Linked DNA regions of Homo sapiens: all the other regions are linked to region 3. The links come from fine-mapping of genetic effects on gene expression. A gene starts in region 3. Each other region holds a variant in brackets. All regions are shown on one strand. Distances are from middle to middle. Region 1 holds the start of FAM246C (family with sequence similarity 246 member C (gene/pseudogene)). Region 2 overlaps DGCR2 (DiGeorge syndrome critical region gene 2). Region 3 holds the start of DGCR2 (DiGeorge syndrome critical region gene 2).

Evidence for each region. PIP is the estimated chance that this variant, and not a neighbour inherited with it, causes the effect. A credible set is the group of variants that fine-mapping cannot tell apart.
Region 1: its variant is the best candidate, but not a certain one, in a credible set for the expression of DGCR2 in whole blood (INTERVAL, PIP 0.69).
Region 2: its variant is the best candidate, but not a certain one, in a credible set for the expression of DGCR2 in whole blood (INTERVAL, PIP 0.55).

Annotation. Positions count from the first base shown.
Region 1 is chr22:19,026,463-19,036,785 of GRCh38, forward strand. It overlaps FAM246C (family with sequence similarity 246 member C (gene/pseudogene)), which reads left to right and starts at 3,062. Exons shown (of 3, transcript NM_001396027.1): 1 at 3,062-3,302; 2 at 3,304-3,338; 3 at 3,340-3,759. The coding sequence starts at 3,062. The coding sequence ends at 3,759. DGCR5 (DiGeorge syndrome critical region gene 5) reads left to right here. Exons shown (of 6, transcript NR_110533.2): 6 at 4,320-4,780. DGCR2 (DiGeorge syndrome critical region gene 2) reads right to left here. Exons shown (of 10, transcript NM_005137.3): 10 at 9,824-10,323. It also overlaps the pseudogene CA15P1. RefSeq lists a silencer at 9,557-9,726 and an enhancer at 10,210-10,323. The variant G/C (reference allele first, on the strand shown) is at 4,525.
Region 2 is chr22:19,081,301-19,091,623 of GRCh38, forward strand. It overlaps DGCR2 (DiGeorge syndrome critical region gene 2), which reads right to left. Exons shown (of 10, transcript NM_005137.3): 2 at 8,068-8,190. Among named protein-coding and RNA genes, the nearest start is that of DGCR2, 36 kb to the right of the region's middle. RefSeq lists enhancers at 4,742-5,243, 5,244-5,743. The variant G/A (reference allele first, on the strand shown) is at 4,799.
Region 3 is chr22:19,118,037-19,128,359 of GRCh38, forward strand. It overlaps DGCR2 (DiGeorge syndrome critical region gene 2), which reads right to left and starts at 4,376. Exons shown (of 10, transcript NM_005137.3): 1 at 4,092-4,376. The coding sequence starts at 4,170. It also overlaps the pseudogene TSSK1A. RefSeq lists an enhancer at 3,735-4,236 and silencers at 4,021-4,140, 4,261-4,700.

The sequences.
Region 1 (10,323 bases), 92 kb before region 3:
CCCCATCGGGACCCCTGGCCAAGCTAAGCAGAGGAGCCCTGGGGTTTCCTCTGACCCCCCACTGTGAATGCATTACTGACGGGCAAGGTGGCCAGTTGCCCACCCAGCCTGCACGTCTGCATGCACAGAGCTACAGCCTGGGCCCAGGGACAGCCCCGGGAGCCGGTGGCTTCCCACAGGCACAGCCAGCCTCCCCACCCCCACCATGCCTGGCCCCCGGCCCAGGGCACACTGAGGGGAACAGGAGGGGAAGGAGCAGGCCCTGCACTGGAGCCTCAGTCAGCTCCTCTGTGCCAGGGGCAGCTGGAGCTGGCTGAATTTGAGGAACTTCCCGGAGGAACTGGAGAGCAGACCTGTGTGCGCGCCCCGCTCTGCCACGTTCCCTGAGGGACACACTGCTTTGACCAGCCCCCACCCCATCTCCTCTCCGCCAGTCCCCGGTGTCCACCCCAGCCCCGCTACCGATGAAGCTCAAGCCAGGGTCCCCATCACCTGCTTCACGGCCATCCCTGCACTTGAGCTCAGGGGCTCAGGGTTGTGCTGACACGCCTGCCTGTCCACCCCTCACCGACACCTCTGCAGTCCTCCTCAGGGCCCAACAGGACCCCCAGGACCCCGCTCCCATTCTGCCCTTGCTCCTGCCAACCTGTCTTCTCTATGCCCATGACTTTGGAACCCTCTGCCACAAGTGCCAGCCCCCACATCTGTAGCCCCTGCAGGAACAAGCCCTAATCTGGACTCATTGCAATGGCTCAGCTTCTCTTCCAACCTGTCCATAAACCTCCAGGCAGAGATCACAAAACTAACAGCTCTTTCTGCAAATCTGGACTCTCTCCTGCACCTTCTTCACCGTCCAGGCCTCCCTGTCATCCGTCCTGGGGACCTCAGAGATCTCTTCATTTCACAGGTGAAGACTTGGCTCAGAGAGGGCAGAGCCCCTGGGTCACACAGCCCGTCTCCAGTAGGGCTGGGGAAAAGAACCCAGGGCGCTCTTGTTGGCAGTGTTTTAATGACTGGGGGGAGGGAGAGAATGGCTAATGAGGCTCTAGGGATCAGCACAGCCAGCTGCTGGAGGTCCCAGAGGACGGGTGACTCAGCAGGAATGGGGGAGTCTGAGGGGTTGACAGAGTGCCCAATTCTCACCTCCTCCTGCACCTTCCAGAGAGACGGGCTGCAGGGAGTGATTGAGTGGATGAACATGACTAGAGGGACCCAGTCTTCTCCTCAGCAGCTGCTTGAGGACAGTATTAGCGGTCCCCTCAATCCCCCCCCCAACACATGCACACATGCACTGACCTGCAGGGGCCAGATCCCGGTGGACCCGGGGACACAGCTTCCAGGGGCTGTCTTGCCATGTCCCTTCCCAGATCTGCCTGGATTCATGCCAGGCCACCCTCCACAATTTGCTGAGGGAGGCCCCAGAGTCCAGGGCACCCAGAGTGCTAACTAGCCCCTGGGGGTACAGGGAGAACAGCATGCTGTGTGGGGGATACTACTCTCTGCCCATACCTAGGGCCCTGTGGCGGCCACAGGCAGCACTGCTTATGCAGAGGCACTGGGGTGAGAAGGAGTAGGGTGCAGTAGTGAGGGCTCCACAGAGGGTGGAAGGGCTGCAGGGGAAGGCAGACCAGCAGGGATGCCATGAGGGCCTCAGATGCCAGGCTGCAGAGGTGGACGGGCTGGCCAGCTCCTCTCCCCAGCCTCCTACTGTAAAATGGGAGAGGATCCCAGCCCTGCTGATTCATCCACTCACTCCATGGCAAGACAGCCACTGACAGCTCTGTCCTGGGGCCCACCCGGGCCTGGCCTCTGTGCAGGCTAGCACTCAGTATGCTTAGTGCCACACTCGGCCCAGGAGAAATGACCCAGCCCTGGGCTCAGAGACCCCACAGTGGGTGGATGGAAAACAGTCATTTAAATACAACTGTGAAGGGTGCTGTGGAGGAGGGGCTCGAGGTCCCCAGTGTGGGATGGGGTGGTCATGGAACGTTTCCCTATCTAAGTGGGAAAAGTGAGAGCCACCAGGAAAATGGCGGGGGTGGGGGGGGAGAGGAATTATGCAAAGACCCAGAAGGATGAAGAAGACTGTTGGATTAGAGGAGGTTAAAGACACAGACAGGCTTGGACATGGTGGCTCATGCCTGTAATCCCAGCACTTTGGGAGGCCAAGACAGGAGGATCACTTGAGGCCAGGAGTTCAAGACCAACCTGGGAAACACAGTGAGACCCTATCTCTACAAAAAAAAAAAAAATTAAAAAAAATTAGCCGGGCATGGTGGTGCACAGTTGTAGTCCCATCTACTCAGGAGACTGAGGTGGGAGGATCGCTTGAGCCCAGGAGGTGGAGGCTGCAGTGAGCTATGATTGCACCACTGCACTCCAGCCTGGGCAACACAGCAAGATCCTGTTTGTAAAAACAAAACAAAACAAAACAAAAAACCCAGCTTGAGATGGCCAGGGATTTCCAGAGGCCCTAGGCAGACCGCCTTGGAGAGTAAGGGAGACCCTGAAGAGCTCCCATGGAAGGGCCAGCAGCCTGGGGCTGGAGATGCCACCTGGATGGATTCCTCCAGCTGTGTGGACTAGGGGACAGGGTGAGGAGATAATGGCCTGGACTACATGGAAGGACGTCGCCCTGAGCCATTGAAAAGGGCTGTGGGGTCCATGACCACTCCTGGCTTTCCCTTGACTATGATGGAGACAGTAGCTTCCAGTGTAAAATGTGAGCTCAGTTCCTGACTCGTGTCTAGCGGGTGGTGCCTGGTCTTTGGCTGGCGATGCTCCATGTCACCTATGCCCAGAAACTGGGCCATGCCCTTTGTGAGGACCTGCCCACAACGTCGTCGTTCCCGCAGGGTCCCCTGGGAACCGGGCTGCCCGAGACCCGGCCCTGCCGGGGTTCCCTGCGCCCCAGACCGGAACCCCCAGGGCTTTGGTCGTTCCCACAGCCGTCCCGCGGGCCCCCTCCACGGTGCGTCGCCTGGGCCCCAGCGGTCGCTAGGCTGCAGCCTGGGGCTCCCGGCCATCCCGGGCGCTGGCGGCGGTGGAGGCAGCAGGGCGGATGGCGGAGCCCGGCCGCCCGTGGGCCCAGGCGCGTAGTGCGTACAGAGCCAGCGAGGTGCTGCGGCGCGGCACGGGCCGCCGGCGGGATCCGGGGCCGCAATCCAATGGGCCGGGCCAGGAAGACGCCCGAGCCCCGGGCCGGATGGCTCGCCTGCGCGGCCAGCTCCGGGCCGAAGCGGCTTCGCGGTCCGAGGTGCCGCGGCTGCTGAAGCTGGTGGAGCGTGCGGGGGCCGGGGCGGCCGGGCGCGGGCGAGAGGACCGGCGCGCACAGCCGCGGGCTCCGTGTGCTCGGTATGCGGGGAGCCCCGCGGCGGGGCCACCTACCCGGCGGGGGTCCTGGAGGTGAGCGAGCGGCGGCTGCAGGAGGGCCTGGCGGCAGTGCGCGAGGAGCTGGGCGCCGGGATTGAGGCGCTGCGCGCGGAGCTTCGAGCGGAGCTGGATGCCCTGCGCGCGCTGCTGCCGCCGCCGCCGTCCCCGCCTGCCCGCCGCGAGCCCCGCGCCGTCCCCCGCGCCGCGCCCCGCGGCCCGACCCTGCCGCGGACGCTCGGCACCGTGAGCGCCCTGGTCGCCGCCTCCAGGCCCGCAGACGACGCCCCGGACGGCCCAGCAGAATGCGGAGCGCACCGAGCCCCGGCCAGGAAGAACCACAAGAAGATGCCAGTGCCGCCTGGGGCCCCGCAAGGTGGCGGGGACTGAGGGCGGCCGCACAAGGGCAGCCTAGGCGAGGTGCGGAAGGCGTCGCGCTGGCTACTCTGGTACCCCCAGGACGGGGCAAGTGAGCAGATCGGTCCCCCTCGTGGAGCGTGGCTCTGAGTCAAAAGGGTGCCCGGGTGCCGCCAGTTAGGGCTCCGGTACTGGAAGGAGGGGGTGGGCCACGTGCGTCTAGGGAGTGCAGCTGGCAGCCGGGGTCCTTGCCAGAGACTGAGTCCGGCTAGAGAACAGGGTGGAGCCCCTTTGGACCTTAGAGCTGGGCCTTTGGGCCTTGGGTCTGGGTGGGCCTTTGGGCCTTGGGTCTGGGTCAGCCTTTGGGCCAGGGCTGGGTCAGCCTCCAGGGAACAGCCGAGACTCCTCTTCCTTGGGGTGACTGCAGGTTCTTTTTCTTGCAAGGTCTCAGTGAGGAGGCAGGGTCTCCACGCACTGGAATAGTGTCAAACCACACACAAGAGCACAGAACCCAGGGACACAGGGCGGCTGAGACACTCAGCTGGTGATGGTCCTCAGGATGGTGTCAACCAGTATGTAATCACATTCCACAGGGCACCAACTGGACAGAGGCCTCCGGTCAGCCTCACTCTGACTGCAACCCCCTCTCACTGGACAGCATCACCTGGACACAGAGCCTCACCTAGTCTGTGTCCCATGGACACAACTTTGCTTTGGACAGTGACACCAAGAATACTCACCCCTTTACTTAGCCAGACCACAGGCAGCCACCTGGACACAAACATCTCTCCAGAGTCA[G/C]CCTCCACACAGACTCCACAGCAGAACTCCCAGGGAGGCACTGGGGCATGGCTTCAGAGCACCAGGCAGCGCTCCGCGGTGCCTAGCACCCGCTCAGCCAGGGCAGCCTGCAGCGGAGCTTGGAGCCAGCAGCTTCTCATCTCTTGGCCTCGGGAAATGTAGCTGGAGTCATCATTTAGCAGAGCACGGTGTCCCTGGGTTGGCCACCCAGCTTAGTTTTAAAATAAAATAATGTAATCTTGGCCTAATGGTGGAATTTCTGACTGCTAGATGTTCTCCTTCCATCTGACCAGGGGATTCAGACACAATGTATAGGATGAGGGTGGGGGCCCTTCTCCCTCTGAGAGGAACCTGGAGAGGCCCGGGTTCTGCTGAGGTAGGAGAGGGTCACTCAGAGGGCTCCCACGGAACAGACAGGCACACTGAGGCCTCAGTGGGATTAGGGCAGGAAATGCCCCTCTTGCAATGGGGGACCACGCCGGGTCACGCACCCACCCCCTCCAGGCTACATTAGGCTAAGGTCACTCTGTGCATTATTTCATTATTTCACATGGAGGGTCGCCCACGGTTGACAGAACCACAGGCTGAGCCCCAGGCCCATCAGAGCGCAGTGCACAACTGCTAGGGTGGGGGAAGAGCAGGGGGCTGCTGCGGGGACCGAGGCTCTCGGAGAGGCCAAGACTGCGTGCCCCTTAAGAGGCTGCTGTGGGCCGGGCACGGTGGCTCAAGCCTGTAATCCCAGCACTTTGGGAGTCCGAGGCAGGCGGATCAGGAGGTCAGGAGATCGAGACCATCCTGGCCAACACGGTGAAACCCCGTCTCTACTAAAAATACAAAAAATTAGCCGGGCCTGGTGGCGGGCACCTGTAGTCCCAGCTATTCAGGAGGCTGCGGCAGGAGAATGGCATGAACCTGGGAGGCAGAGCTTGCAGTGAGCTGAGATTCCACCACTGCACTCCAGCCTGGGCGACAGAGTGAGCCTCCGTCTCAAAAAAAAAAAAAAAAAAAAGAGGCTGCTGGGGGCGGAAGTTACCCGTGAGCGGTATGGGGTGAAAGTGGGAGGGTCCAGCCTGGGGCAGGGTGTAGAACAGGGTCATCTGAGGGTGCAGGGCAAAGAGATCAAAACGGGGTGGGAGAGGGGCAGCGCCTGCGGGAGGAGCCAGGCAAGGCCCGGGGAGGGGTGTGGGGGGCGAGGGGGGACGGTGGCTCCACCTGCACCCACCGGATGGGTATGGGGTCCTCGAAGACGGTCCAGAGCACCGTGGGCTCGCAGTCAGGCGGGGTCAGCGACCCAGCGAAGCGACAGTAGCTCGAGGTGTTGGGCCGCATCGACGCCAGCGGGAAGGTGGACATCAGATTCACTGAGAGCCCCGGGCGGCAGAGGGAGGGGGATTGGAACCAGCCTCCCTGTGCCCTGCTGGTGCCATCCCCAGCAAACCCCCCGCCCCTGAGCCGGAAAACGACCCGGTGGCTCCTCACCTGGCTCAGGCACCTTCCTCAAGCCCGACACTATGGCGCAGAAGTTGGTGTTGCTACAGTCCTGCTCCTGGGAGGGGCTCCAAGTGCGAGGGGTTCTGAGTGAGGGAGTCTCTGAAGAGGGAACTCAGCTGGGGTACTCTAAGCAGGAGGCTCCCAGTGGCAGGAGGCATCTGGCATCTGGGAAATGGGGTGGAGGGTTCTCGCCGCCACTGGCCCTGCCGATTCAGGCATTCCCACCGCCCCATCCTCCCACAGATCCTATAGACCCTAGAGATCCCCCCACGGACTCCACAGGCCTGGCCTGTCCACTTCCAGGATCCCCATGGACCCCTTTTTTGGAAACATACATAGAATCACAGCCCTGCCTTCACCGCCAGCAGCACCTCCAGCAGCAGGGCCTGCACTCGAGCCCATCACCGTGGCGTGGTGCCTCCTCCATGCTCTGGTACTTTGTGTTACTGTGGACCACGTGCATCTGGGGGGAGGCACAGATGTGGGAGATACCCAGCTGCCCTCACCTTGCTCTCTCTCACCTCCGTGGGAGCACTCCGGCCACCCCACCTTGTTCCCGAGTCTACCTCCATAGCCTGGCGCTGCCTGTCCAGGCTGTGCTCCGAGTCTGCTCGCCTCGGGCCCCCCCACCGCCGGCAGTTGAAGTGCAGCTGCAGTGCGCGGTAGACAGGCAACAGCAGCCCAGCCTCCCAAATCTCCAGGTGGTTCTGAGGATCAGTGTCCATTCAGAGTAGCAATGAAGGGGAGGAGGCACACGACACCCTCTCTACCTCACCACCTGTCCATCTTGTGCCATTAGGGCACAGGGTATGAGCAGAGGCCCTTCCTCAGGCCAGGTTTCTCCCCAGTGCGGCCCCATTGCCTCCATGGAATGGAACCCATGGTGTCCATGGCTCCTGCTGGTCAGCAGAGCAGAGCTCCACAGACTGCAGGGGAAACCCTTCCCCCCCCCACACCCAGCATGGCATGGAAGAGGGCAGAGGGCAGCCCTCCTGGTGTGGGGCTCTAAGCCCAGCTGTGTGTGGTCAGGGATCCTGGCCCTGCCAGAGACCCTGACTCCTGGTCCTCAGGGGCCATGGCTGGTTGTGATTTGTAAGGTGGGACCTGGCACCTACACAGAGGGTGCATCTGGACTGCTGTGTGAGGATGCTCCTTTCCTCTGAAGCTAGCCCCTGTGGAGGGTTTTTGGCCCTGTAGGTTGTCTCAGCTCCCGTGTGTAGGGGGTCCTGGTCCCTGTGTACACGCAGGAGCTCTCATGCCCTGTGTGGGGCTCCTGCCTCTGCCTAGGAGGGGTCCTGACCACAGGGTGCTGACTTGTGTGGCTGTCATTCTCCAGGGTCCAAGGGCCTGGAGGTGCTGAGTCATAGCCTCGGAAGATGAAGGGCCCTAGGGTAGAGTTCCGCCGGACCCTGTGAAAGTCAATGTTGATGAGGGACTGGCCTGGGCCCCCACAGGCAGGGGGCCAGCTTCTTCCAGTGGGTGGGGACTGCTGGAACAAGGACTGGGGCCTTTGGGGTGGGGGGGGGGTCAGGGAGGCAGCCTGGGGGTGCAGCAGAGAGTGGCCCCCATACACCCAGAGGATAGCCCAGCCTCAGGAAACCTAGCTCCCTGCTTCCCCCACACCTGAACAGGTCACAGCACCCCCCTTCTCTTGTACCCTGCATCTGACCTATCCATCTAGTCTCCCAGTTGGCTGCCCCATGGTGAGATGAAGGTGGAAGGGTCTCCGGCACACAGTTGCACACCCACACTGGGACCTCTATCACCTGCACACACTTGGGCTGGCCACAGTAACGGGCACACCAGCCTTGACTGACTCGGGACCGGCAATCACAGCAGGCCCAGACTCACACACAGGGGGACAGTCACGCACTTGCACCTGATGCCCAGTCAGTCTACTGGGGCAGACGACTACAGACAGAAACCTGCAAAGGCCACAGAGTGCAGGGTGCAGACTGTCTCTTGGCCACTCTTGCACCACTGGCACATGCTCTGGTGGTCCCAGGACACAGACTGATCTGACACAGCCTCACATGACACTCTGTCCTCACCATACTTGAGGTCCTGGGAGTCATAGCACCAGGCACCTATAGAGACAGTGGGCAGGAGGCTGAGCTGAGAGGCCAGTCATCTGGGCCCTCTCCAAGCCCCATCCCATCAGCTGGGGTCCAAGAATGAAGTAGGTCAGGGGTTTAGGCCAGGGGAGGCCAGTGAAGAACCTTCTCTCCTGTCACCCCTACCTCAGTATTTTCTCTCCCCAGTCCCTCCCCACTCCCAGTGGCAAGACCTAAGGGGTGGTGGAGCATGGCAAGAGGGTAGATTGGAGGCCAGACAGGAAGAGTCCTGGTGCTCACTCTCAGAGTCTGCGCCACACCAGCTGCACCGCAAGGCGAGCATGATGCCAGGGGCGTGCGTGGCTCAGTGGCAGCCGCAGCTAGGAAGGACTAGAAAGTGGCTAGACCACGCAGCCAGGATGCTGGCCTGGCTACTACATATTTATTCATTAGCTAGCTGGGCTAGGGGCGTGGCTACTGAGGAGAGGATGGGAGGGGTCGGTGCCCAGGCAGGGCCACCAGGAAGAGCGCGAGCGCTCCAAACTCACCCAGGTGTGCTCTGGTCCCAGGGCTGCACTGATGCCAGCAACAATCGCTGAGGTTAATCCTGCAGGGGAGGGGTGACCTATTATTATCCCCACTTACAGTCCAGGAAACAGAGGCTGGGGACCAGAATGACACACCAAAGCCACCAGCAAGAAAGGTCAAATAGTGAGGGCACCTTGGACCCCAGTGCCCATGACTTTCGGGGCAAGGATGGGAGGAAGGTGTAGGATGTCTCTTGCCCCACTGTGGGCCCGGAACTGCCACCCCATCCCAAGACCACAGCCTCCCTCCTACCCAGGCCCCCCTGCGGATCCAGGCCAAGACGGAGCCCTGCAGGAGGTCAGAGGAGGGGACTTCTTTGCACCCTGCGCCTCTTTCCAATCGCCAGAGGGCAGGGCCCTACCCACATTGGGGATGGGAAGACAGCCCCTACCCAGAGGCAGGGCTCGGGGCTCTGTCCAGAGTGCTGACAGTGACCTGTGTGCTCGGGACTCAACACCACCACTCCACTCCTGCCCCAGCAGATGGGATAAAAAATGAGGGGCCACATCCTCGAGGCTCCCATCCCTGCCAAGGGACTTACCAGTTCCTTTCCTAACCCTGACTCCTCTCGTGTCCGGCCGCAGGACGTCCCCCCAGTATACACATCTGGAGTGCCCCCAGAGCAGGGCATGCAATCACACTTCCTGGGCCCACTACCCTCTGAGACCTAGAGATGGCACTGCTGGACATGAGTGAAGAGGCCCCAGAGGACCTAGGCTACTTTGTAACATTAGGTGGCTTGGACTGGAGGGAGGGGCTGTTTCCAGCCACCCGGATGATGAGGGGAGCTTAGAGGAAATGGCGCTGACGGCCAGGTTCCAAGCCCTGCCCTACCACCCCGTCCCATGCTAGCTCCCAGATGGTGTCAAGCAGCCTTGCCTTTATGTGGATCCTGTGCACGTCAGCAACACCTGCCAAGGCAGCAGCCGATGCCCCAAGCAGGGCTGGGTGCTGCAGGATAGCTGTAGGCAGCTCAGGGCTGCTGCTCTCCCTGCACACTCCACCTAGGGGCTCCAGGCTCAGCTCTGCCTGGTCCTCAGGGGGTTTGATGGACGCCTGCAAGGGCTGCAAACCCTAGGTGCATTCTGCTGAAAGGTGGGTACCCAGCCTCTTCCACCTTAGCCTGTGGCAGCCGTGGGGGCCACACCAAGGACTAACCATGCCTCTTCCGGAACACAAGTTTATTTGGCATTTGGATGAAATGATTCTCACAGCATCTTAAGAAAAGTTAGTGTCAACCCAACCAAAAACTAAAAACCCTTAATGAAAACATAAAAAAACAGGCATCAAGACAATGTACAGTATCAAATCCCACCTCCGCATGGCAGGTCAGAGGGCACCTGGGCTCTGAGAAACCGTGGCAAGCTGGTCCTAGAGGAGGAGGACCCCTGGAGCACAAGGTTCAGCAAGGGTGACCCCGGGACTTGCTGGTCAGACTGGGGACTGCAGCAGGCCTTGCAAAGGGGGCATTCTGGATGGTGGTGCAAGAACAGATGAGCGAGTCCAGCTCTCCTCATGCTCCCAAGGGCCTCCTGGAGCCACAGTGGCAGCGGTGTTCCAGGCAGCCCTGCCATGTGGACCTTCTGCCTGGCCCAACGTGCCAGTGGCCTGAGTGCTTGTGGAGGCCCATGGGGAAGGGGCCACCCAGCAACCCCGGCCAGCCCAA
Region 2 (10,323 bases), 37 kb before region 3:
GAATTTTGTGTATCACTGCGCTTATTTTTTTCTTTTAGTTTACCACATGTGTATGTATCTATAAGTAATATAACGATCTGTTTTGCTTCTCTATATTGTGCCATATGTCGTTTTTAGCAACTTGCTTTTAGCTGACGTTCTGTTTTCAAGATTCATCCATGTTGCTGCATAAACCTAACATTCACTTACTGTTGCTGGTGTATAACATTCCATCATGTGAGCACAGACATTTGGGTTGTTTCCAAGACATGTATCAATGGCAAAAATTAAGATGTCTGACAAAACCAAGAGTTGGAGAGGATGTGGATGGCTTGGAATTTTATCTGCTCCTTTACACCCACTCTGGAAAAACTGTACAAACAATTCTGCAAGGATTTTTCCAGAGTTTCCCTAAATAGAAATCCTGGATCACAGAAAATAAGAATGTTCAGCTTTGCAAGATAATGTCTCTATTCCAGAGTGGGTGTAAAGAAGCACATAAAATTTCCACACTATCCATATCTTCTCCAACATTTTAATTTTTGCCAGTCTAAGCATCTGTAAAGTGGTATCTCACTGTATGTAGTCTTAGAATACTAACGAGGTTAAATTTAAATGTCTTTTTCTATGTTTAATCACCATCTACGAAATGCTTTATAGGAGTTCTTTATATACACTGAATTAGAATCCTTATCCTTTACAGGCTGTAAGTGTTGCAAATATCTTCTCTCTACTCTAGCTTGTCTTTTCACAGTCTTTACTGGTGTTTTTTGGGGTTTTTTTTGTTTTTTTTTTTTTGAAACAGGGTCTCACTCTGATGTCCAGTGGTGTAATCTCGGCTCACTGCAGCCTTGACCTCAGGGACTCAGGTGATTCTTCCCACCTTAGCCTACTGAGAAGCTGGGACTACAAGTGTGTACCACCACATCTGGCTAATTATTTCTTTTTTTTTTTTTTTTTTTTTTTCATAGAGACAGGATTTCACCACGTTGCCCTGGCTGGTCTGGAACTCTTGGGCTCTGGCAATCTGCCCACCTTGGTCTCCCAAAGTGCTGGGATTCCTGGCATAAGCACCTGGCCTATTGGTGTCTTTCAATAAACGAGAGATCTTAATTTTAATCTAGCAAATTCAGTCATTTTTATTTTAGAGTGAATATTTTATGTGATTAAGAAAAAGGTGGCCAGAGGCTAGGTATGGTGGCTCATGCACCTGTAATCCCAGCACTTTGGGAAGCCGAGGCAGGCAGATCGCCTGAGATCAGGGGTTCGAGCCCAGCCCGGCCAACATGGCAAAACCCCGTCTCTACTAAAAATACAAAAATTAGACGAGCGTGGTGGCAGATGCCTGTAATCCCAGCTACTCGGGAGGCTGAGGCAGGAGAATCACTTGAACCCAGGAGGTGGAGGTTGCAGTGAGCTGAGATCGCACCACTGCACTCCAGCCTCCAGCCTGGGTGACAGAGCGAAACTCCATCTCCAAAAAAAAACAGAAAAAAAAAGAAAGAAAGAAAGAAAAGAAAAAGGTGGCTGGGCGCAGTGGCTCATGCCCCCGTAATCCAGGCACTCTGGGAAGCCGAAGCAGGCAGACTGCTTAAACTCGTGAGTTAGAGACCAGCCTGGGCAACGTGGCGAAACACCGATTCTACGAAAACATGCAATTAGCCGGGCATGGTGGTGCACGCTTGTAGTCCTAGCTACTCCGGAGACTGAGGTAGGAGGATGGCTTGAGCCCAGGAGGCGGAGGTTGCAGTGATACAAGAACGTGTCACTGCACTCCAGCCTGGGTGACAGAGCCAGACCTTGTCTCAAAAAAAAAAAAAAAGAAAAAGAAAAAGGCACACTTCCCTATCAAGGTCTTAAAGATAGTCTCCTATAATTTATCCAAAACTGAATTTCCTGTATGTTGTGAGTTAGGGATCCAACTGCATCCTTCTCCGACTGTCACAGCACTGTGTTTGAAGAGTCTGCCCTTTGCACAGCGATATGTAATTCCACCTCTGGAATTCAAGCTTCTTAGGTCTGTTTCTGACAGCTTCTGTCTCACTGGCCAATTTGGATTTCCCTGAGCCAATTTTGAAGTAAATCTTGATACGGGCAAGGCAAGTGCTCCCTCCTCATTCCTCTTCTTCACAACGACCTCTCAATACTACGACTTAATTCTTCTCAACATTTTAGAATCGACTTATCGCATTTCACATAAAACTCACGGAGCTTTAAAGATGCACTGAATCCACAGAACAATATGAGTTTTTAAAAGATTCGGTCTTCCTAGGCAAGAACATTCTGCCACTATTTACTTGTCTTCTTTAATGTCTCTTAATAAAACTGCAAATTTTTCTCCCTCAAAAATTTTACACATCTTTTGTTAATTCTCGTTTATATCAAAGATGGTTCCCCTCTCCCTCTCCCTCTCCCCCCTCCCCCTCCCCCTCTCCCTCTCCCCACGGTCTCCCTCTCCCTCTCTTTCCACGGTCTCCCTCTGATGCCGAGCTGAAGCTGGACTGTACTGCTGCCATCTCGGCTCACTGCAACCTCCCTGCCTGATTCTCCTGCCTCAGCCTGCCGAGTGCCTGCGATTGCAGGCGCGCGCCGCCATGCCTGACTGGTTTTCATATTTTTTTTGGTGGAGACGGGGTTTTGCTGTGTTGGCCGGGCTAGTCTCCAGCTCCTAACCTTGAGTGATCCGCCAGCCTCGGCCTCCCGAGGTGCCGGGATTGCAGACGGAGTCTCGTTCACTCAGTGCTCAATGTTGCCCAGGCCGAAGTGCAGTGGCGTGATCTCGGCTCGCTACAACCTCCACCTCCCAGCCGCCTGCCTTGGCCTCCCAAAGTGCCGAGATTGCAGCCTCTGCCCGGCCACCACCCCGTCTGGGAAGTGAGGAGTGTCTCTGCCTGGCCGCCCGTCATCTGGGATGTGAGGAGCCCCTCTGACCGGCCGCCCAGTCTGGGAAGTGAGGAGCGCCTCTTCCCTGTCGCCATCCCATCTAGGAAGTGAGGAGTGTCTCTGCCCGGCCGCCCATCATCTGAGATATGGGGAGCGCCTCTGCCCCGCCGCCCCGTCTGGGATGTGAAGAGCACCTCTGCCCGGCCACGACCCCGTCTGGGAGGTGAGGAGCGTCTCCGCCGGGCCACCCCGTCTGAGAAGTGAGGAGCCCCTCCGCCCGGCAGCCGCCCCGTCTGAGAAGTGAGGGGCCCCTTTGCCCGGGAGCCGCCCCGTCTGAGAAGTGAGGAGCCCCTCCGCCCGGCAGCCGCCCCGTCTGAGAAGTGAGGAGCCCCTCCGCCCGGCAGCCACCCCGTCTGAGAAGTGAGGAGCCCCTCCGCCCGGCAGCCGCCCCGTCTGGGAAGTGAGGAGCGTCTCCGCCCGGCAGCCACCCCATCCGGGAGGGAGGTGGGGGTCAGCCCCCGCCCGGCCAGCTGCCCCGTCCGGGAGGGAGGTGGGGGGTCAGCCCCCGCCCGGCCAGCCGCCCCGTCCGGGAGGGAGGTGGGGGGTCAGCCCCCGCCCGGCCAGCCGCCCCGTCCGGGAAGGAGGTGGGGGGGCGCCTCCGCCCGGCCAGCCGCCCCGTCCGGGAGGTGGGGGGCGCCTCTGCCCAGCCGCCCCTTCTGGGAAGTGAGGAGCCCCTCTGCCCGGCCACCACCCCATCTGGGAGGTGTACCCAACAGCTCATTGAGAACGGGCCATGATGACAATGGTGGTTTTGTGGAATAGAAAAGGGGGAAACGTGGGGAAAAGATTGAGAAATCGGATGGTTGCTGTGTCTGTGCAGAAAGAAGTAGACATGGGAGACTTTTCATTTTGTTCTGTACTAAGAAAAATTCTCCTGCCTTGGAAAAAAAAAAAAAAACAAAGATGGTTCCACTGGGAAAACAGAAACCATGCTAAGGGATTTCTAACACGAAGGGTTTAATACAGAAAATAGGTGCTTTCAAAACAACTGGCAAGGCTATATAGTGTGAGCAAAAGTAAAGTGGGCTAACTCCCCATCTAATTCCCACAGTCATTGTCAAGAGTCAGGAAGCTACTACTGCCATCTATAGGTTAGGAAACTGCAAAAATCTGCTGCCAATACTGCAGCTGCTCTGCAGCCCTGAGACAGCTGGCCAGTGGGGGAAGGCAGAAGCCACTGCAAAAAGTCACCTCAAAAATCTAAGCCCATGCACACCCCCAACATACACTATGGCCTGAGGAAGAAAGGTTCCACCTCCCTTCCACTTGCCACATTTCCCAAGACACATGTCATAGGGCAAATGACACACAGAAGCCTGCTGCCAGGTGGTTCTGAGTGCTACTGCTCCAGCATTCCAGCCTCTGAAACCCACGGACAAGCCCAGAAGGGAGTGAGTGGGAAGGTACTGAATGCCCAGGCTGTACCTAGCATGTCATTTCCCTCTTTTCAAAAACATGCAGAAATTACTGATCTACTGTTACATCTTTCCCCTTTTTTTGTCCCTTTGGTTTTACATTTTTTATACTCCTTTTTAGCAGGCTTTTAGCAGGGCAATGAAGTAACCCCATAAGGTAACTCCAGAAGTCCTGAAGTCTAGTTCAAAAGCAACTTGACTGAGAATGGCCCAGGGCTTCCCTAGGGGTTACTGAAACTCTCCTCATACAAAGGAAGGTCACAGCTTTTGAGCAAGGGTGGTTATTAGCTAACTCTCTACTTCCCCCACAAACACAAAGAGTTTCCTTTTTTGAGAGGGGAGGAGGTTGGGGGAAGGGAGAGTGTCAATGAGGACTTGACTCTATATCTATGATTTTTTAAAAATTTCTTTTAAAATAAACTAGAAAAAAAATCACAAGATTTAGCAGTCATTAATTCAAG[G/A]AAGTAAGAAAATACGTATTACACATTCTTTGTACATTTTTATGACTTAATTTGCTCAGAATCTCAACTTTAAGAACAATTAGAAATCAACCTGCTTGGCCGGGCACAGTGACTCACGCCTGTAATCCCAGCACTTTGGGAGGCCGAGGAGAGCGGATCACAAGGTCAGGAGATCGAGACGATCCTGACTAGCACGGTGAAACCCTGTCTCTACTAAAAATACAAAAAAAATTAGCCGGGTGTGGTAGCAGGCGCCTGTAATCCCAGCTACTCAGGAGGCTGAGGCAGGAGAATGGCATGAACCCGGGAGGCAGAGCTTGCAGTGAGCCCAGATGGCGCCACTGCACTCCAGCCTGGGCAACAAAGCGAGACTCCATCTCAAATAAAAAAAAAAGAAATCAATCTGCTCACCCTCCAGACTGTGACACAGCACTATACAAGGACAATCATAGGACCGTGAGTCAAGGAGAAGCAGGGTGAGCCTTGTCAGGGCAGTGGCCTCCTCAGCCCACCCAGAACACTCCTAGGCCCTACCAAGCCTCAGGGGGCTTGCACACACGGGTCCTCATTGTCATGCCTTCACTGCTCAGCCCTGGTGCAGGCCACCACTCGTAACTTTCGGCTTCTATGAGAGATTTTATTTTTCTGTCTAGGGAAAACATATGGCAACCAATGTAACTTCAAGCCAATACTCAAGTGCAAAGTTGATGCCTGCTCCATGCCAGGCCATGTGGTCAAGAGAAATAAAACCTACTCCTTGCCTTCAACAAGTCTTCAGAGCGTGGAAAGATGAACAAGGTGGCAACTATGAGTGTGGATACCACTATGTTCAGCGTGTGTAACAGGACAGTTATTACAAACAACTACAAAAGCAAAGCCAAATGGCACTTTGAGAACAACAAATAAACTCTGCTTCCATTTGAAAGCAAACCAAGAATCATCTGGTTCTCTCTTCAGGAATTCTCCAAGAGGCTGGATATAAGGTCTCACTCTATGAGTCAGACAAGGGGAGGCTCCCACTCATAACCACATGGTCGTCCCCAGGCTGACCAACCAGGGAACTTCAGCAGCCCAAGCACTGGGAAGCCCACTGGGAATCCACTTTCTCTGGGCTTTGACCCCAAAGACCCACCAGAGAGGCTCCCAGACAAAGGACTGTCCCAGAGGCTCCTGACCGGGCCAACACCATCCAAACCCTCATTTGGAAAGGCAAACACCTCTACCAGAGACACGCATAATCTGATGAAGAATGGGCTCCAGAGATGATCAGGAGGGGCCCCCTCTAAACAGCATTCTTTTCTTTTTTTTTGAAACAGAATCTCACTCTGTCGCCCAGGCTGGAGCGCACTGGCATGATCTCAGCTCACTGCAACCTCTACCTCCTGGATTCAAGTGATTCTCCTGCCTCAGCTGGGATTACAGGTGCTCGCCACCACGCCCAGCTAATTTTTGTATTTTTAGTAGAGATGAGATTTCACGATGTCAGCCAGACTGGTCTGAAACTCCTGACCTTAAGTGATCCTGCCTGCCTCGGCCTCCAAAAGTGTTGGGATTATAAGGCATGAGCCACTGCACCTGGCTTTTTTTTTTTTTTTTTTGCCTTTGAGACAGAGTCTTGTTCTGCAGCCCAGGATAAAGTGCAGTGGCACAATCTTGACTCACTGCAATCTCCTCCTCCCAGGTTCAAGCAATTCTTGTGCCTCAGCCTCCTGAGTAGCTGGGATTATAGGTGTGCAGCACCACACCTGGCCAATTTTTGTATTTTTATTAGAAACGGGGTTTCACTATGTTGGCCAAGCTGATCTCAAACTCCTGGCCTAAAGCGATCCACCCACCTCAGCCTCCCAAAGTGTTGGGTTACAGGTGTGAGCCTTCGCACCCTGCCTAAACAGCATTCTTTACAGGCAAATACAATCTGACCAGACCATCTCTGCTTCTTATTTTGGAACCCCCCCTCAAAGAACTACCACAAGTTCAAATGTCACCTAATCCCCTACCTAATACCCTGGTTGGAATGAATTGGTTTTCCTTCAGTACTAAGCCTATAGGAATTACAGCACACCTTTCATGTCCTAGGCCAAGTCCCACTAAGGAAGGAGAAAGGTCTCTGCCCCCTGGGAACTCATGGTCTGGATGGAAAAATCAAGCCTGGGCACCAGGAATGGTGAGAATTACCAATGGTTCTGATGCTATAAGAGAGGGACGAATGGGGGACTGGAAGAAGCCAATCTATAAAATGAGGGACCACAGACATTCTCCCACTGGGGTAACATCTGAGCTACACCTTGAAGGATGGTAAGGCTTGTCTATGCAGAAACAGAACAAGAGAATTCCAGGAAAACATAAAGGAAGCACACATCTACAAGATTATTAATGGGGTGGGCACAAGAAACAGCCCAGCTGAGCCACTGAAGGGGAAGTAGTGATAAATCAGGTTGGCAAAGCAGACCTAAACCAGCTTGTGAAGGAGTCTGCATGTCTGGCCAAAGCATTTAAGCCTGTGATTCTCAAGCTGGGGTAAGACACACTTTCCCCTTAGTGGCTTTATCAGCACCACCTAGTCTTAAAAACGAATTCATGGATACATGTATATGTATGTCTCACACATTCACACACACATGCACAAGTACTCACTACACCTCCCACCCAACCAAAGTTGAGAACAACGGATCCAGTGAACATTGTTATTCATGGGGTGCCCTGTATTCCTTGAGGGTGCTGAGGCAGAAACCAGGTGAAGAACCTGGTTCTCCGATTTAGCCTTTTTGTGGCCTTTCCATACATCTTTAGGAGACTACATAATGGCCAGGAGAGAACCTGTGAGTGCAAAGTTCCAGGTGAATGAGTGAGCAGGAGGGGAGGGCGTGCCAAGGCCAGTCTAAAAGAGCACATTCAGGATCAAGAGGCACCCACATCCAGAGCCAGGATGGGGATAAGGTCAGAGAGGTGGCCAAGGTGCCACCCCTCAGGAGGGGTTCACACTCAAGATCATCCAAGTCCAGGGAGTGCAGCGCCTCCTTAAGTGGAGCCTCCTGGGCATCTCACGGGCCTCCCCACAGCCCTGCCATCTTGCAAGTTCTGGGATCTGCCTAGGTTGGGCACTTATTTTTTAAAAAGACAGAAAGACAGAGAGAGAGGAAGGGGTCGGCTCAAACTAACTTTCCAATGTGTTAAGACAGCACACACCTCCACCCCTCACAAGAGGCACAGTCACCCAGCTACAACAAAGAGACAAGGTGGTGTGTACCCCGCCTACTCAACACACTCACCTGGACAGTTGGCTTCGTCGCTCTCATCCTCGCAAGTCGCCCAGCCGTCACACTGCCAGGGGAGGGGGATGCACTGGATGGTGCCGCTGCGACACGCAAACTGCCCAGGGTTGCACCGCAGCTCTGTGGGACCAAAGGGTGAGAGGCCATTGAGGAAGTGGCAGTAGGCCAGCAAACCATAGCCCATGGGCTGGATCAATCTCTTCCCATTTGTTTGTTTGTTTGTTTTTGAGACAGAGTCTCATTCTGTCACCCAGGCTGGAGTGCCAGTGGTGCAGTCTCAGCTCACTGCAACCTTCACCTTCCGTGTTCAAGCAATTCTTGTCCCTCAGCCTCCTGAGTAGCTGGAATTACAAGCATGTGTCATCATGCCTAGCTAATTTTTATATTTTTAGTAGAGACGGGGTTTTGCCATGTTGGCCAGGCTGGTCTTGAACTCCTGGCCTCAAGTGATCTGCCTGCCTCGGCCTCCCGAAGTGCCAGGATTACAGGCATGTACCACTGTGCCTGGCCCCCATCTGTTTTTAAAATCAGGTTTTATCAGAACACAGCCACAAATATGTATTGTCTATGGCTGCTTTCAAGCTACAGCAGCCGAGCTGAGTAGCTGCAGAAAAGACTATATGGCCTGCAAAGCTGAAAACATTTAATGCCTGGCCCTTTACGAACCTATTACCTAGAGATAAAAACTGTAACACTTAAGATGAAAAGTACGCTGCAGAACATTAACAGGTTAGATTTTGTAGTAGAAAAGATTAGTGACTTGAAGATATAATAATAGAAACACTCTGAACTAAAACACAGAATGAAAAAATACCAGGAAAAAATGTGCAAATCATCAGTAAGCTGTGGAACAACCTCACACACCCTAATACATGGGGGAACAGACACAACATCTGAAGAAACAATGGGGAAAATTTCCCAATTTGATGAAAACTATAAACCCACAAATCCAGGTAGCTCAATGAACCACAAGCACCAGAAATACAAACAATACAATTCCAAGTCACATTGGAATTGAATTGCTTAAAATCAGCGATAAAATCCTAAAAGCAGGCAGAAAAAGAAGACATGCACAGAAAAACAAAGATCTAGATGACAGCAGATTTCTCATTAGAAACGATACAGCCTAGAAGACAGTGATGTGACATGTTAAAGTTCTGAAAGAAAAAGCTGTTGACCTACAATTATTTAAAGCAAACACACAGATACTGTATTGTGCAGTTTATAACATACACAGAAGTAAAATTTTGACAATAGTAGCACCAAAGGTGGGAAGAGAGAAACAGAAGCACACTGTTTTAAGGCTCTCAAACTACAGGTAAAGTGGTCCATCACTTGAAGGTAGTCTATGATAAGTTAATGATGAACCCGACTAAAATAACACAAGAGTTGTGGCAAGTAAGCCAACATAGAAGAGAATAAAAAATAATCCAAAAGAAGGAAAAAAAAAAGACAAACAGATGGTACAAATGAAAACAAAGGGTAATATGGTAGATTTTAATTAAACTTGCCTAATCAATAAATACGCAGAACGATCTAAACACTCCAACTGAAAGGCAGAATTTGTCATGTAGGGAAAAAATCAAGATACAACTACATATTACCTAAAACAAACTCACTTTATATAGGCATAAATAAGAGAAAATAAAAGAATAAAAAAGATATACCATGTTAACACTAATCAAAGGATAGCTGGAAGGGCAGGTACATGGCTCATTCCTGTCATCTCCATAATCCCAGCATTTTGGGAGGCTGATGCAGAAGGATCACTTGAGCCCAGGAGTTCAGGACCAGCCTGAGCAACATGGCAAAATGCCATCTCTCTAAAAATACAAAAAATTAGCCGGGTATTGGGACAAACGCCTATAGTCCCAGCTACTCGAGAGGCTGAGGTGGGAGGATCACCTGAGCCTGGAAAGTTAAGGCTGCAGTGAGCTATAATCGTGCTACTGCACTACAGCCTGGGCAACAGGAGTGAGACTCTGTCTCAAAAAAAGGCTAGCTGGAGTGTATTAATATCACACAAAGTAGACTTCAGTGCAAATATTACCAGGAATAAAGAAGGTCATTTAATAATGATAAAGGGATTGATTCAAGAGGACATAATCCTAAATGTTTATGTATCTATTAAAATTTACAAAAGAAACTTCAAAATTCATGAAACAGAAACTACTGTAACTGCTAATAGACGAATCCACAATTAAAGTCAGAGCTTTTAATAACCCTCTTGATAGAACAAGCAGATAGAAAACC
Region 3 (10,323 bases):
ATGCACCAAACCCCTGTGCTACTTCACATGAAAGAAAACTCTGGACTCCAGCCGGGGAGAGGTGGCTCACACCTGCAATCCCGTAACTTTGGGAGGCCAAAGCAGGTGGATCACTTGAGCCCAGGAGTTTGAGACCAGCCTACATGGCCAACATGGTGAAACCCCGTCTCTACTAAAAATACAAAATTATCCCAGCATGGTGGCGTGCGCCGTAATCAAAGTTACTCTGGAGGCTGACACAGGAGAATTACTTGAACCCAGGAGGTGGAGGTTACAGTGAGCTGAGATCCCGCAACTGCACTCCAGCCTGGGTGACAGACAGAAACTCCATCGCAAACAAAAAAAAAAAAAAAAAAAAAAAACAACTCTGGACTCCAGAGCCAAGGTGCTGTGTTCACTTCTCAGCTCCCTGAGATGTGATCAGCTCAGCACAGCTGCCTACTGAAAGCAAAAGAGAAAGAACCCTGAGCTAGCAGCCAGCTCCACCTGGGTCTGAACCCACGCTCTGCTGCTCACCAGCTGTGTGACCTTAGACAAGTCACTTGCCTCTCCCAGCTAGCTGTACCAACAATAGAAGGAAGACGACCTTCTAGTCCTCTACCTTACCAAGGGGCCTAGCTGAGCACAGGCCCTGTACAGGACCAACAACCAGCAGGAAGGGACCAGGGTGCACCAGCATTCAGAAGGCAATTTTTTCTCAGCTATGTATGGTGGGTTCAACCTGGATAGAGCTGTGGCTCATGATATAATTTTGTTTCACAATTAAAGCTAGAAAGAAAAACAGTTTTAGAATCAGCAGTCGATGCTGCCTTCTCTACACAGATGGAGAAAGGGCCAATGAGACAGTATCACAATCAGTGGTCCCCAAATCCCCCCACCATCTCGCTGTCAGTTACCTCAGCAGTAGTCTCCAACCGTTCTTCCTCATCACACCCCCAGTGATCATAACACACATCATCAGTGGTCACATGGCCAAACACAGAAGGGATTTGGCAGAGGGTGAGTGGTTCTGTCCCTCAGACTGGAGTATCCACATGGAAAAAGATTCTGCACCCTCACCTAGAGGACCCTGGGACCTAACAGGGGACAGAGGCAGTCTGTGGCTCCACCTGGGGTTAAGGAAGCTGTTCAGAGCATAATATGAGGTACTCCTGTGGCTGGGCTGGAGACACACAGTTGGAGTGCACAGACCCCAGTCACGGGTGCATGATGGGGGGAAGGCCAGACTCCTACGATGAAATCTCATCTCAGCCTTAGCTTCATGAGTGCTCTGGATTTCAGCTTCCCCATCTTTAAATGAGGCTAAAAACAGCATCTAGCAGGGACCTCTTGAGAGTTAACATATGTTAGTGCTTAGAACAGTGTCCGGCACATGACACATCTTAAATCAAGTTCAAATGTGCACTTAAAAAAAAATTGCTGGGCATGGTACCTCAGGCCTGTAATTCCAGCACTTTGGGAGGCCAAGGCAGGTGGCTCACCAGAGGTCAGGAGTTCCAGACCAGCCCGGCCAACATGGCAAAACCCCATCTCTACTAAAAATACAAAAATTAGCCGAGCGTGGAGGCGTATGCCTGTAATCCCAGCTACTCGGGAGGCTGAGGCAGGAGAATCGCTTGAACCAAGGAGGTGGAGGTTGCAGTGGGCCAAGATCACGCTACTGCACTCCAGCCTGAGCAACAGAGCAGGACTCTGTCTCAAAAAAAAAAAAAAAAAAAAAATTGGTGAAAGGTCAAGTACAGCAAGCACTTGCTGCCCCATAACTCCATGAAAGGCCTTCCACCCTGCCCTGTACCAGAGAGGAAGCCCAGGTGGCTTGGCATCATCTTCAGGGACCCCACCAGGCAGGAGTCAGAAAACACCCTCCTGAGAAGTGGGCTCTGACTGATACCTTCCTCATACTCAAGTATGCTTTTAAGGCCGGAATCCCCACAGAAAGAACGCAGACTAAGACCAGAGAAGCCCCAGCCTCTTGCAAGCACCAGCCAGGCAGATCCCTGCAGCACTCTCAGGAAGGACACATGGTGAATGTGTGAAGAGGCACACACGGGCATACAAGGAACACATCAGGCCCAGAGGCCTGCCCTCCCTGCCCAGCCAAAGCCAGGAAGCCAGCTGCAGCTCCCGGGTTCTGCAGGGCAACTCAAGACGCCTCCAGGGGTAGCTGCAATGTTCTCATCTGGAGAGTCATGGAATCGAAAGAATAAGTTTGCTCCCTCTACCAGATCCACCCCACCCATGCCCTACTCCGACCTCAGTGTGAGGTCTCCTGTGACGCCCTCACTGCTTCACAGGTACAAAAAGATGGCCACCTCCACCCACCTCTGGGACCCCACACTCCAGGGTATTCAACACACAGGAGTGTGACAAGTGACTTACACCTGGCCTCTGTTCCACATCAGGCACTCCTAAAAGGAGGGGCTTGTTCTTGTCACTTGGATTCCCTAGGGATGGGCAGGGGGCAAGCACCCACAGGCACTTTCTCAGTTGCTGCTGGCCAGTTGGCAGGCTATGTGAAAAGGCTGGCAAGGAAAAAGGAGTCGGGGACGTCAGTCACCTCTATCACCCAGGCAGGAGATGCTGGGCCTGGAACCAGAGGCACCCCAAAGAAGCCAGGCATAATATGGCCTCACCTGAGCCCGGTGACCTCATCTGCAAAACTGGGACTCAAGAATCAGAAAACGGTGACCTTCTACCTCTCTACACGTACATATATGTTTTCTAAAGAAGTTAATCACAAGAATCCACAAACCCATTGGTTCTGACCTCCAAGAGCCTATATGATACCCTCCTCCACAGGTAGCCCTTTTCCTGGCTTCTGTTCTTACCAAGGCCACCCCACAACTAGTCATCCCGCTGCCCAGAGAGCAGCCAAAAGCAGTGAGCAACTAGCTCTACATGGGGAGACCAGAGAAGCATCACTGAATCTGTCCAGGTTGAGCACCGGTCAGGGCCTTGGCCACCAGGCAGGCACTAGGGAGGAGGCAGACATTCCACATAGATGACACAAGCGCAGAGCCAAGAGGTGCGGTGTATCTGGGCTGGGAGCCTGGCTAGGGCACAGGAGAGGGCCACACACCCCGTGCTCCCACACCCAGGTCATCAGAGAAGATGGCCCTGGCACTTCTGCCTTCATGGGACCTTTCCTCCATTAAGAAATATTAAGAGTCATGCTTTTTCACTGTATTAGTATAAAGATGACTGTATTAATATACATACGAAAACATTTTATTTGACCTAAAAGTTCATTTTTTTTCTGCTGACTTTAAAAAAAAATAAAATAACATTCGAAGGCTACTAAAAGTACCGTGGGCAAGTGATACCAGGATTCCTGTGCCTGATGGATACATCGGCCCTGCATTTAGGGAGTTTGATTTTTTGGTGCAGTTCAAGGGGAGGTACACCGAAATAGGTAGAAAAGGGTCTCCTGGTTGCCACGGTTCTGATTCCCCACCACAGACTTAAGAACACACTAGCTCCGAGGGGAGTTCCAAAGCACGGACTCATTCATCACATACACGCAGCACGGCTAAGGGCCCCGCACAGTGGCGAGGTCTCTGCTCCCGGGACGCTCGCGCCGGCCACACAACGCTAGGCTGACTCCTGGTGCCTCCTCTAGGCCCGGTGGGACCTGAGGACTTCCTTAGCGCAACGTCTCACTGAATGACAGCCACAACCACCGCTGTCCAGGCGAGGAGTTTCCAGGACTGAGAGGCTGGCACTAGGCCACTGCTGGGAGGACGTCTGTGAAACCAGGTGCCCCTGAGAGCCACTGTCCCCAGCCCGACTCCGACGCTGGACTGGCGAGAGGGTGCGCCCGTGGCGTAGCTCCTGGCCGCCGCCGCTCCCGGGAAGGGCCCAGAGGCAACATCCTGGACAGCAGAGCTGCACGAAGTCCGAGGCGCCGCGAGCCCAGGTAAGCTCCAGCAGGCGTCCGCAGAGAGTGCCAGGCGGCCCGCGAGCCAGGCCCCGCCCGCCCCTGCCCCAGGCGCGGCCCCTGCAGGAGGGCGCCGCGGGTGAAAGGAGGTCCCGGGGCGACCCCGGCCCCGCTCGCCGCCCAGCCCCCACACCGCCCCCATCGCGCGGCGCACCTGGCCGCAGCGGCTCGGTGACAGTGAGCACGAGCAGGAAGAGCAGCAGGAAGGCGCCGCTGTCTGCCTTGGGCACCATTTATCCTCCGTTCATCGTCCCCGGGGCGGCTGGAAGGCCGGACCAGGCCGGACTGAGGGTCAGGGGACCGTGCCAAGCGGAGGGTCAGGCGGAGCTGAACCTGGGCGAGGCGCGGAGAGGCGGCGGGAAAGAGCTTCGGCTGGGCCGCGGGCTGGCGCACACTCTCGGCTGCAACCTCAGGCACCGACTCCAGCTGCGCGCAAGATGGCGGCCGTCCTGCTCGGCTCCGCGCCGCGCCGCCCCGCCCCGCCTCCCGCCCGCGACGCAGGCGCGGGCCAATGACCGTCAAGATGGGGGGCGGGGCCAGAGCCAAAGCCCTCCGAAGAGGGTGAGGCCTAAGGTCGCGACGGCGGAGGGCGGGGACCTAAGGGCGGGGACTGAGGGGCGGGCTCTAAGGGAAGGGCGGGACCATACGGAGTGAGGCGTGCCATTGGTTAAGCAGAGAGGCAGGGCCGGGGCCGGGGCCTGAGCGGCGGGGCCACCGAAGGGAGTAGGGTCTCTGGACGCCGGTTAGGGACGGCGGGCGCGGGACGGCAAGGATGGACATCGAAAGGCGCGGGGCATGGGGCGGGGCGCCGAGGGGTCGCGCGGGTGGGGAGCGGAGAGAACGAAGTGGGAACCTGGCTGGGACTCCAAGGGTCTTCACACCTGCAAGCTCAGGTCCCGTGAGCAGCCCAAAAGTGCGCCCCAAAGGGGTCTTTTTAAGGCCGAACCGCTGTGGAGGAGGGAGGGCCTGCCGGTTCTGAGGGTGGGGAAAGAGGAACAGGAATGGCCTAAGAGAGTGTCAGGCAAAGAGAGACCGGGAAGGCCAGGTCCTGGAGACTGCAGCGAAGCCGGCTCCCTGGAGGACCTGCCTACACAATGGCTAGGGGAAGGCCACATGTGCAGGAAAGAAAGCTAGGCAGAGAGGAGGCTCAGCGCCCCTGCGAACAGTGCTCCAAGTGCCACTTCTCCCGTCATCACCAACAGGGTGAACCTTGGAGGGCAGTGTCGGCGAAGAGTCCAACTCTGTAAAATATTTGAAGACATTTCTTCTGAGCCAATATGTGACCAATAGCCTGGGACACAGCCCCAGGAGATCCTGACAAGTGCCCAAGGGGGTAGGGCCACAGCTTGGTTTTATACATTTTAGGGAGACAAGACATCAATCAGCACATGTAAGATATACATTGGTTCAGTCGGAAAAGGCGGGACAACTTGAAAGTGGGGGGTGGAGGGGGGCTTCTAGGTCATGCGGATTGGCAGTTGGTTCAAAGAGTTTATCTAAAGACCTGGAATCAATAAAAGGGACTGTCTACATTAAGGGGTTGTGGAGACCAAGTTTCTTAGGCAAATGAAGCCTCCAGGTATCAGGCTTCACAGAGAAAAGACTGTTAATGTTTCTTATTAAAAAGTGCCAGACTCTGCCGGGTGTGGTGGCTCACGCCTGTCATCCCAGCACTTTGGGAGGCCAAGGCGGGCGGATCACCTGAGGTCAGGAGTTCAAGATCAGCCTGGCCAACATGGTGAAACCACATCTCTACTAAAAATACAAAAGTTACCCAGGCGTGGTGGCACACGCCTGTAATCCCAGCTACTCAGGAGGCTGATGGCAGGAGAATCGCTTGAACCGGGGAGGCAGAGGTTGCAGTGAGCCAAGATCATGCCACTGCACTCCAGCCTGGGCAACAGAGTAAGACTCTGTCTCAAAAAAAAAAAAAAAAAAAAGGAAAAAAAAAAGGAAAAATAAATAAAAGGTGCCAGACTCTAGTTAATTCTCTCAGGAGAAAAGACCTTGAAAGGGATAGGGATTCTCTACAGAATGTAGATTTTCCCCACAAAAAACAGCTTTGCAGAGCGACTTCAAAATATGTGAAAGAAACCTGTTTTGCAGTAAAATATGTGTTTCCTTCCGGGCCTGCTGTCATGCTGGTATCTTACTGCCACAGAGTCTGTTGTCAGTCTTCAAGTCTCTGTGTCGATGTTACACTGCTTAGCTGTGCCTGAAACCTGAAGGGAGGAGGGATAATGAGGCCTGACTCCCACTTCCTATCACGGCCTGAAATAGTTTTTCAGGTTAAGTTTGGAATGCCCTTGGTGGAGAGGAGGGGTCCATTCAGATGGCTGGGGGGTTAGAGTTTTATTTTTGGTTTCCAGGAGACAGTAGTTGGGGTGTCCCCAGCGGGAAGGAGAAGGAGGCTGTCTGGAAGGAGGAGAACCAAGAATGCACAAAGGCCTGGCAGTGGGCAGTCAGCGTTAGGGAAGAAGGTGAAGGAGCAGAGAAAAGGGGGAAGGGCCACGGCAGGTGGGGACCCAACCCAACATGAGTGACAACCAGCCCGCCCTACCAAGTCATCCTGAGGGGCCCAGGGTTCCACTTGGCTCCTGTGAGAAAGGGGTGCTCACTCCCTCTAGGTGGATGAGGCCAAAGTCAAATCCAAGGCTAGGATAGTCATGTGACTCCTACTCCCCTAGGGCATAGCCCGGAACAAGTGCTGGACACAGAGCCTGGCACAGCAGAGGGGCTCCACTGCCAGAAAAAACAATGGCCACACTCTCCAGTGCTGCCCCTGCTGCTTGTACTGTCCTCAGAGCAGCCACCAGTGCTCAGGGTGGCATCCAGTCCCCGCCTTTAGCCCCCAGCCCCAGATCTGCCCTGGGAGCCCAGCCAGGGGCAGAAAAAAAACTAGTTCATTGAGTGCCAGGGAGCCCTGCCCAAGGACATGGCGTGCAAGATGTTCCACCAACTCTCCTCAGCCATTAAATACTGCCACGACCTGGACATCATGCACCAGAACCTCAAGTGTTAGAACCTTCTCCTCGACAAGGACTTCAACATCAAGCTGTTCTACTTCAGGTTCTCCAAGCTCTGCCTGCGGGATGACAGTGGCCAACAGAGATTAAGCAAGAACTTCTGCGGGTTGGTGGCATATGCAGCCCCCGAGCTGCTGCAGGGCATCCCCTACCAGCCCATGGTGTATGACATCTGGAGCCTGGGCATGATCCTCTACATCATGGTCTGCAGCTCCATGCCTTACGACTCCAACATCAGGAAGATGCTGCGTATCCAGAAGGAGCACCGCGTGGACTTCCCACACTCCAAGAACCTGACAGACGAGTGCAAGGACCTCATCTACTGCATGCTGCAGCCCGACGTCAGCCAGCGGCTGCACATCCATGACACCCTCAGCCAATGCTGGGTGCAGCCCAAGGCACAGGGACTGCCCTCTATGGTCTTCAACAAGGAGGGGGAAAGCTCCCAGGGAACTGAACTCTTGTGGACCCCTGAACCTGGCTCTGCCAAGAGGTCTGCCACCAAGCTGGAGCCTGGGGAACAGACACAGCCCGAGGGACAGCCTGAGACAAAACCTGAGGGGTTGGCAATGCAAATGTCCAGGCAGTCGGACATCCTAGGCTTCCCCAGCAAGCCGTCGACCAGGGAGAAAGAGGAAGGGCCCCCCAGCAGCCTCCAGAGATGCGCACCTAGTGAGCCGTTTGTGGCCCAGTGTGCCAGCGGCGAATGAGATGGAGCTCACGCCTTCAGGCCCAAGCTCTGAAGAAGTCAAGGCACAAACCAGAGAAGGAAGACGGTCCCGGATGAGCCGCTGTTTTCATCAATTTCTTCTCTCTCCCCTTGAACTTCATAACCGACATTGCTAAAGGAGCAATAAATCACTATATTAATGCAGATGCCAAAGTGAATGTCTTTGCCTCAACTGACTAGTCCTGGGCTCCCCTCCACTGGTTTCCCACTCAGATTGTGCAATGATTCCTCGTTTGCTTGGGAAAACACATCCCAACGTGCCCAGTCCAGACCATGACCTCAGGCCCAGGCTGGGGCTGGGGCTTGGGCTGGGGCTGGGAGAGACCTGGAGGGGCAGGGGCCAGAGCTGAAAGGTGAGTGAGGAAGCCGCTGCCTCAGAAGGGACGCCCCCAAGTGCGGTGCTGGGGTCGGGAAAGGGCAGGGAGAGGACAGGACCAAGAAGCATGCCGAGGTACCCCTGTAGAGGAGCGCAGGCTTTATCTGCAGTTGGGACTGAGGGTCTGGGCAGACCTCTCCAGCCCCACAAGGCTGCCAGTGGGGGTTGTGGGAGGCTGCAGAGGGCAGGTGGCCAGCCTCTCAGCCACTCCTGAGCTCCCTACCCTGCTGGGCAACTCGTTCATTGTGCTCTGTCCATCAGAGGCCCCCTGTGTCCAGCCAGCACCCAGCTTTCAACAGTGCCGGGGTCGCCGCACCCTGTGGTCATTCTCTAGCCCGGGAGAAATAGGAGGCTCTGCTGGATGGCCCAGCCACACTCCAGCCTGAGCATGTCCCACAGTCTTGTGTGGTCTTGACCACATCTTGTTGTCCCCGTCCCAGCCTGTCCCAAGGGACGACACCCCTGCATTAGAAGTTGACACTGGCAAGTAGGATACGACAGGCAACCACAAAGGACAAGCGCTTTCAGAATTACCTCTCCCATGGCCTCTAAGTGGATGGGGCCAAAGTCAAACCCAAGGCTAGGACTGTCATGCGACTCCCACTCCCCCAGGGCGGGGCCTGAAGCAGGTGCTGGACACAGAGAATGTCAGAGCAGAGGAGCTCCACTGCCAGCAACATCGATGATCACTGTCCACAGTCTACCTATGGTCACTTCTCTACCTCGGGAAGACCCCAACCTCAGTCCCCTTGGAGAAGTAGGGTCTAGTGAGAGCCTGGACTGGCCCTCCTTGCGCTCTTCCCCAAGTCCACCTGCCTCCTCATGTTCTCACAGCCCCCTTCCACGTGGTTTAATTTCAGGCCTCCACCCCAACCCTCCCACCACCTCCGACAGTGTCCAGAGCCATCCCCCACCAGCCTGGCTCCCACTGCCCAGTGGGGAGGAACCTACCCTGGCCTCTGGGGTCCTCCTGTGGCCCAGTGCATCCTCCCCTGGCCTCTGGGCACCAGGCCTCACCACTGCGCCCCCATCACACACACGGCCCATAATCATACAGGGAACTCGCCCCTGCAGACTCTGTCCAGCTCTCCAGGCTCAGCTGAGAGGCTGAGGCCTCCATAAAGCCTTCTAGGGGTTCTCAGCAGCCTGCCACTGTGTACTCTGCCAACAGGCCTCAAGGAGCCACCCTATTTTTCCCACCAAGAAACTCATGGTGGAGAGGGAGCCCAGAGTGCTGGGATGGGGGCCCGGGTGGGACATCCTGAGAAATGGCTCTTGGGGCCTCCTCCTCAATTATCCCCACGGACCTGCGCTGGTCCTCAGGGCAGTGGCTGGCAAGCAGGTCTGGGAGCCTCACTGTAGCTCAGCCAGGTAAGCCCGGGTGGGAGGGGCTGCAGGAGGAGTTCCTGCTCTGAGCTTTACAGCTGGAAACAGCTCAGAGGGAGTGGGCCACCTGTCTGAGATCACACTGCCCAGGGCAGGAGTCCCAGGTGACGCCTCCACAGGTGGCCTCGCCATGCCGGGCGACTCCTGTAGGTGGCTCAGCCCTGGCTCAGACCCCTTCAAGGATTCTCAAAGGTGCTAGGACCAGGACCTCAACAGGGCCCTCCATGGCCTGTCCGTGCTCCTGCCAAGCCACATCCCTTCAAACCGTCACATGTAATAGCTATCCTCATCCCTCTCCACCTGGCTAGTTCCTCAGACCTCAGCCTTCCCCAGCTTCCCAAAGTCCAATCCCCAGTTCCCTGTCCTCACAGCACCATGGTTCTGATGCGTGGCACAGCCACCATCGCGCACACACACTTGGTGTGATTGAGCCTCCCTCGCCTCTGGGCTCCAGGACGGCATGGGTGGTCTAGCTCATCAGTGTACCTCGGCATCCAGGGCAGACCCTCAGTGCTTGGGGGACAAATAGGTAAAAAGGTGTCTACTTTATAAAGGATAGGAAGGTTCAGAGAGAAGTGGATTTCTCAGAGTGTGCAGGTACCTTGCTCACAGGACTGCAACCCTAGGAGCAACGCTGGAGGTCTCCAAGTCGAATCCAAAGCTCTCTGTCAAACATACCAGGAGTGCCGGCCCTGTGTGTGCATCCTGGATGAAGCGGCCCGCTCCATGCCCGGGCAGTTCTGCCTCTGCAATGTTGACACCTGCCTCTTCTGGCATGTCCCCCAAGAACCAGAGAGACCCTCAGGAGGTGAAGAAGTAGAATGCACAAAAAGAGGGAGAAGGCATTGGTAGAGTCTGGGAAGAAGGC